Linked DNA regions of Homo sapiens. The protein of the gene in region 1 purifies or fractionates together with the protein of each later gene. This does not show direct contact. Each region holds a gene or a part of one and is shown on either strand. Other genes may lie near its edges.

What was found. The genes of interacting proteins can lie anywhere in the genome.
Region 2: the proteins of TPH1 (region 1) and MCM10 purify together in Homo sapiens (affinity purification with mass spectrometry; 2 studies listed by BioGRID and IntAct, with this or other methods). This does not show direct contact.

What each region holds. Positions count from the first base shown.
Region 1 is NC_000011.10:18,036,270-18,039,769, forward strand, and holds part of TPH1 (tryptophan 5-hydroxylase 1), read right to left. Parts: intron 1-3,500. UniProt on the Homo sapiens protein: Oxidizes L-tryptophan to 5-hydroxy-l-tryptophan in the rate-determining step of serotonin biosynthesis.
Region 2 is NC_000010.11:13,196,058-13,199,557, forward strand, and holds part of MCM10 (protein MCM10 homolog), read left to right. Parts: intron 1-1,565; coding exon 1,566-1,710; intron 1,711-2,631; coding exon 2,632-2,750; intron 2,751-3,500. UniProt on the Homo sapiens protein: Acts as a replication initiation factor that brings together the MCM2-7 helicase and the DNA polymerase alpha/primase complex in order to initiate DNA replication. Additionally, plays a role in preventing DNA damage during replication.

The DNA.
Region 1 (3,500 bases):
TTTTTAGTGCTGCCAACAACAAAATAATTCCTTCTTAAAAATTATGTATTAGAAAACTTTTCAAAATTCATCCCATCCTCCAGAAACCAATAAAATAACACACACTAGAGGTCCTTCAGATGTCAGAATTAATCAGAATTCAAATCAAAATATTATTAAGTTTCCTGGGTAAGAGGAATCTTTTGAAAATTCTCATAAATAAAAGCTAGTTTTCAAAAAGTGATACCAATGTTAGTCCTGGAGAAAGAAGAGTTTCCCTTTCAAAAATCCATTTAATTAAATTAGATGAACAGCTTGAGCACAGAGTATTTAATACCTCAAATCTCTTAAGCTACAATCTTAGTAACAGCTGAACCAGATCTCCTCTTCTGACCTCTCCCAAGTCAGCCTAAGATGGGGGTGCTCTGTGTATAAGTGTGGGAGGAGGGTATGTTCTCTTACCAATTTGGGTAGCTGAGGAAGAGTGCTGGGGACATGATAATGAAACATGAGCACTAATCACCCTATAGTTTTTTCATCTAAAACAATGAGAAGGTTAGAGCAGATAATCTCCAATACTAACCAGTGCATCCTAAAATAACTTAATGAACACCTGTGTAACTAGGTAAGGGCTGCGAAGAATATAAAGGGAAGACATAAAGGAATTTAGAATCTAGTTGGTGAACACATGGAAGATTAAGAAAATAAAGTAAAGAGTGTTCGGATGCAGGTGCTCAGCAAAGGGAAAAGCATTACGACTTAAGAGAGAGTAGAAAGTTTCATGGAGCAGGTGGGAACTTAAATGAATCTTAAAGAATAGATAGAATAGGCCAGGCGTGGTGGCTCACGCCTGTAATTCCAACACTCTGGGAGGCCAAGGTGGAAGAATCACTTGAGCCCAGGAGTTCAGGACCAGCCTGGACCACATAGCAAGACCCTGTCTCTACAAAAAATAATAAATTAGCCAGGCGTAGTGGCGCACACCAGTAGTCCCAGCTACTCGGGATACTGAGGTGGGAGGGTCACTTGAGACCAGGAGGTTAAGGCTACAGTGAGCTGTGATTGTGCCACTGCACTCCAGCCTGGGTGACAAAGTGAGACCCTTTCTCAAAAAAAAAAAAAAAAATATTATCAGGGAACATGAGCTAACAAGAAAGAGGAGTGAGTGATAGAGGATGTTAGAAAATTAGAATAGGCAGGGTTTATCTGGGAACATATAATTTATCACAGAATCAATAGAAGTCAGTTACAAAATATATTGGGATTGATCAGGTGTAAAGAAGAGTTTCATTTCATCTATTTCTTATAAATTTTTACATTAATAATGCATTTGTAAATATTTTCTAAATGATGACTTGAATAAATATAAAGCTAAACTATGTCTTTGGAGAAAAAAAAAGATGCAAAAATGTCAATCATTCCTAAATTAAAATCTCAATGGAATTTGGTGAGGAAATGTAATTAAATAATTTCCAAGTTCATCTGGAAGAAAAATACGGTCTGGAAAATTCAGATAAAGTAGAAGTAGTAAGTGAAACATTCCCTATCAGACATTTCAGTTACAGAAACAGAGGCATAGAGAGGTTAAGCAGTTTGGCCAGAAGCACACAGGTGACAAGTGTCAGAGCCGGAATTCAAATCTAGTCTGTCCAGCTCCACAGTCCATGTGCTTAAACACTATGCTGTAATCCTGTTGCCCAAGAAAGGAAGAGTCACAAAGGTGGATACTAAGGCTCTTCTTCAAACAATATTTACATAATCTTAATAATAAAGACACTAAAGATTGACAGAGCCAAAAACCGGGACACAAATACATTGGGAAGACGAGTGGAAAAGAAGTTGAAGAGGCCATCGGAAGGGGAGTTGTGTCAAGAAACCTAAATTTTTACTTCATTGTTGAAAATCAATAGATAATTACCTATAATTCTAGAAATCAAGAAGTAGAAGCAGAATAAGCATATAACTTATAAGTGTGGAAGTAAATATTAGAAAAATAGTTTAAAGAGTTGAAAATGGTTGCCTCCACTAGGCAGGGGATAACTAGGTTGTCTCCACTAGGCAGGTGGAGACACACCCAGAGAACACCATGTAGCAGTTAGAAGAATGAATGAGATGTTCACACAGCAGCGTGCATAGGTCTTAAAAACACAGTGCTGGATGGGAAAAAGAATCTTTATAGCACAATATGATTATATAAATTACTAATATACGCACACACAAAGACTACATATTCTAAAGTGCAGACAAAGTAATTCAATGTACATATCAAACATGAGAGCAGCTCTCTATCAGAAGAGAGAAATGGAGATAGAATTCAAGAATGAAATAAAACAGGAAGAGGTTGCACAAATCAACGATGATAGTGTACACGTGATTTAATGAGTGTGATTAACTCAAGCTTCTGCACACAAGGTTGCAAAAAAATTAAATGGAACTTTGGAATGAAGAGAGATGGAGCAAAACACTACTTTTTTAAAAATATGTTTTATAGTACAGGTTGAGTTGTTTTTAAGCTATGCACAATTATTCTTCGATTAAAAATTAAATTTAAAAAAAGCTGATGGAAGAAGACATACAGGTATTTTATTTAAAGACCCAAAGGTAATCAATAGAATAGCTAAAAGTAATAATAAAAGTATCAGATTTGGAAGGACTGGGAGAGGGAAGGGAGGGAGGTGGTATCAGTATCATTGTTCATAATAGAAAGTAAATGAATATAGTGTGAAGTTGATAACTTGAAAAGACATATAAGAGCAATGTTTAGATTTCATAAACTCACCACCAAAAAAACTAACGACCAGAAATAGTTAAAAGAGGTTGCCTCTAGGGAGTGGGACTGAGAATATGGTATGTGTTAGGTAAGAAAACTGATGCTTTTCATTACAAGCTCTTCTAGACTATCTATATTTAAGATTTTTAATTCTTTGAAATATTCTTTGCAAACAGCTATATAATAGTATGTCATATGATTATTAACATAGCTAACATCTATTGTTCACTTACTTTGTACTGTACCATCCTAAGCATTTTAGAGATATTAACTCTACTAATGCTCACAATGACCCTATGAGGTAGGTAGAGTTCTCATTTTATGGACATAAATCATGAAGTGTGGAGAGATTAATCAATTTGCCCACGATCACCCAGGTAATAACTGACAGAGCAAGGATATGAATCCAGGTGGCCTGTCTCTGGAGACCAGAGCTTAACCACAGTGGTGTTCTGCTATCACAATTCAACATCCCCTATATTAGGACAAGTGGCTTATTTATAATTTTTAGTTCCTATAAACAATAAATCTTTGTGTGTCCCTGAGCCCTTAAACTCAGTTAGGTCCCCCAAGTTCAATGCTGTCAGAATATCTGGTATTTCTGTTTCATGTCACTTTACACATAGTGATTATTCACTTACTGCAGTTGTTTGTTTAATGTTGCCTTCCCCACTAGATTACATACTCTGTGAGGACAGGCACTGTGTTTACTTTGTCCAGCTCCACATCCTTAGTGTCTGGTGTGGTACCT
Region 2 (3,500 bases), on another chromosome or scaffold:
CACCACGCCTTGGCTAATTTTTGTATTTTTTGTAGAGATGGGGGCCTCCCTTTGCTGCCCAAGCTGGTCTTGCACTCCTGGACTCAAGCAGTCCCACCTCAGCCTCCCAAAGTGCTGGGACTACAGGCATGAGCCACTGTGCCTAACCAAGAATCCTTTAAAAGAAATCTTACACAAAAGTCCAGTCCCATGACAGGTGAAAGCTGAGTTGCTGCGGCTGAAGTAGGGGTAGGGCACCCAGAGCCCCACCTGCCCACTTCCTGAGTGCCCCAATCGAGCCTCTCTCTTCCCTTAAGTTAGCAGCTGCAGCCAAATGAAGGGCAAAGCTTGCTGTATGCCAAAACCTTACCTATAATAATAACAACAGGAATACCTACAATAACCATGGCACATGTCCATATTACTCAGTACTTGTGATATGTGTGTGCCATGTATTTACTATGTTTATTTATTTATTTATATATATATTTTTTGAGATGGAGTCTCGCTCTGTCACCCAGGCTGGAATACAGTAGTCCGATCTCGCCTCACTGCATCCTCTGCCTCCTGGGTTCAATCAATTCTCTTGCCTCAGCCTCCCGAATTGCTGGGATTACAGGTGCCCACCACCATGCCTGACTAATTTTTGTATTTTTAGAAGAGACAGGGTTTCACCATGTTGGCCAGGCTGGTTTCGAACTCCTGACCTCAAGTGATCCACCTGCCTCAGCCTCCCAAAGTGCTGGGATTACAGGCATGAGCCACTGCGCCCGGCCAGGAATGTATTTGCTATGTAAAGATTCATACTTTGCAGATATTATCTTATTTCATCCATACAACCATGACCTTCAAAGGTAGGTCAATGCTATATCATCATTTCCTTCTCTTTTTTTGTGTGTTTGTTTTGAGACAGGGTCTCACTCTGTCTCCCAGGCTGGTGTACAGTGGTGCAATCACAGCTCACTGAAACCTCCATCTCCCTGGGCTCAGGTGATCCTCCCATCTCAGTCCCCTGAGTAGCTGGGACTACAGGCATGCACTACCATGCCCAGCTAATTTTGTACCATGCCCAGATGAAGTCTCACTGTGTTGCTCAGGCTGGTTTTAAACTCCCGAGCTCAAGAAATCCACCTGCTTCAGCCTCCCAAAGTGCTGGGTTTACAATGAGCTACCATGCCAAGCCCCATTTCCATTTTATACTTGAAAAATTAAGTAATTTTCCTTGGGTTACAAGCTAGTCCGTGGCAGAGCTGGCTGGAACTTTATCTTAATTCTCTCTGATTCTAAAACTTCCAAAATGGTGATGTGGCTCCTTTATGGATCTGGAAGCCTGCAGTCTTGCTGATGTCAAACTTGTTATATTTAAATAAACTAAGATTTTATTCATCAACATATAGACCTGTCTCCCATGCTATTATATTCTAGTAATTGTGTTAATAATACTAAGTAAAATTAAGATATGTTCTGCCAATTTCTGTCAGAGAACAGCCAGAATTCACTGGTTACTAATAAAAAAGGGATCCAGGTCTATAAGTGCCTCTGTCATCTTTTAGATCTTTACCTCCCTCTCATTCCCTTTTTTCTAGTTAGCTGCTATCACCAAATTAAGGGCAAAAGGCCAGGTTCTTACAAAAACAAACCCAAACAGCATTAAGAAGAAACAAAAGGACCCTCAGGACATCCTGGAGGTGAAGGAACGTGTAGAAAAAAACACCATGTTTTCTTCTCAAGGTACTGCAGTTTCACAGTTAACAGTGGGAAAGAGAAACTGTTTCTAAGGGAAATATGTTCTAAACCCAAACCAGCACCCAGATATCAAGCAATTACTTCCATTTCCTCCTATATAGAATACCTAAATAGAATTTCTATGGGTGGAACTGATTTTTTTTTTTTTTTTCATGGAGTCTTGCTCTGTTGCCAGGCTAGAGTGCAGTGGCGCAGTCTTGGCTCGCTACAGCCTCTGCCTCCTGGGTTCAAGCGATCCTCCTGCCTCAGCCTCACGAGTAAGTGGGACTACAAGCGCGCGCCACCACGCCCAGCTAATTTTTTGTATTTTTAGTATAGATGGGGTTTCACCATGTTGGCCAGGATGGCCTCGATCTCTTGACCTCATGATCCGCCCGCCTTGACCTCCCAAAGTGCTGGGATTACAGACGTGAGCTGGAACTGATTTTTTTATAATTACATTAAATTGGAATGAAATTGGGCACAATTTGAATACTTGGGAATAGGATTGCTCATTGGATCTTTGTACATATATATATTAGCATAAAGATTTACTTTGACAGAACTAGAATTCCTTTGTTTTAAATTGCCATATCTTTATTTTTAAAACTCTGAAGTTGGCAATATCATTTTAACATAATTGTCAACATTATTTACACTGTTGTTATCTGTTACTATCGTCAGCTGCCTATTTGAAGGTGAAAAAGAGATTCTATTTAGTGGTAAAATCTGCCACCACCCCACATTCTAGGCTCAGCTTCTTGGCTCACCTCTGAGAGCTTTTCCCTGCTGGGACCAGCGGGGGTAGGTCAAGTTTGAAGGGCTGGTAGGCAGAGGAGGAGGGAGTGGGAGGGAGTAGAGTTGATGAGGCGCACTGGCTTTCTGAAATTTCTTGGTCGCTGCTAATGTTTGTTCCTTGTGCCCTAGCTGAGGATGAATTGGAGCCTGCCAGGAAAAAAAGGAGAGAACAACTTGCCTATCTGGAATCTGAGGAATTTCAGAAAATCCTAAAAGCAAAATCAAAACACACAGGCATCCTGAAAGAGGTAAGAGCCCAAAAGCTCAAGGATGGTGTTGATGTCCGATGTCCTTCAAAGCCAAGGTGCTAGCTGTAGGACCAAGAATGTGTTGTTTGTTTTATTTTGTTTTTCTGAGACAGAGTCTCAGTCTGTGGCCCAGGCTGAAGTGCAGTGGCGCCATCTCGGCTCAATGCAAGCTCCGCCTCCCAGGTTCAAGCGATTCTCCTGCCTCAGCCTCCCAAGTAGCTGGGATTACAGGTGCCTGCCACCACACGAAGCAAATTTTTGTGTTTTTAGTAGGGACAGAGTTTCACCGTGTTGGCCAGGCTGATCTCTAACTCCTGACCTCAAGTGATCCTCCAGCCTTGGCCTCCCAAAGTGCTGGGATTACAGGCGTGAGCCACCATGCCCGTACCCAGCCAAGAATCTGTTTTTTACATAAATCTAAAAGTAGGTATATGTCAGTTTGTTTGAGTTTGCTTTGAAGAACAGGAGAATTTCTAATAAATTTTAGCTTTGTCCTTGTCTCTTTACTGAAGAATATCATTTGATTTAACATGACTTAAATAGATATCAATATTATAAAAATGTTTGCATTTGGTTATGGCTGTGAAATTATGTTTAAATGGCTCTACACTGCTGCTATTTTCTGCCTTGCAATATGCAAAAAGAGTTTTCCCATTCCAGTATTTTTATATTGGCATTTCAAATGCTCTAAATCAGTAGTTAACCCCATCACACCCAAGGACCCTTTTTAATAACAAGTATTTTGTATTG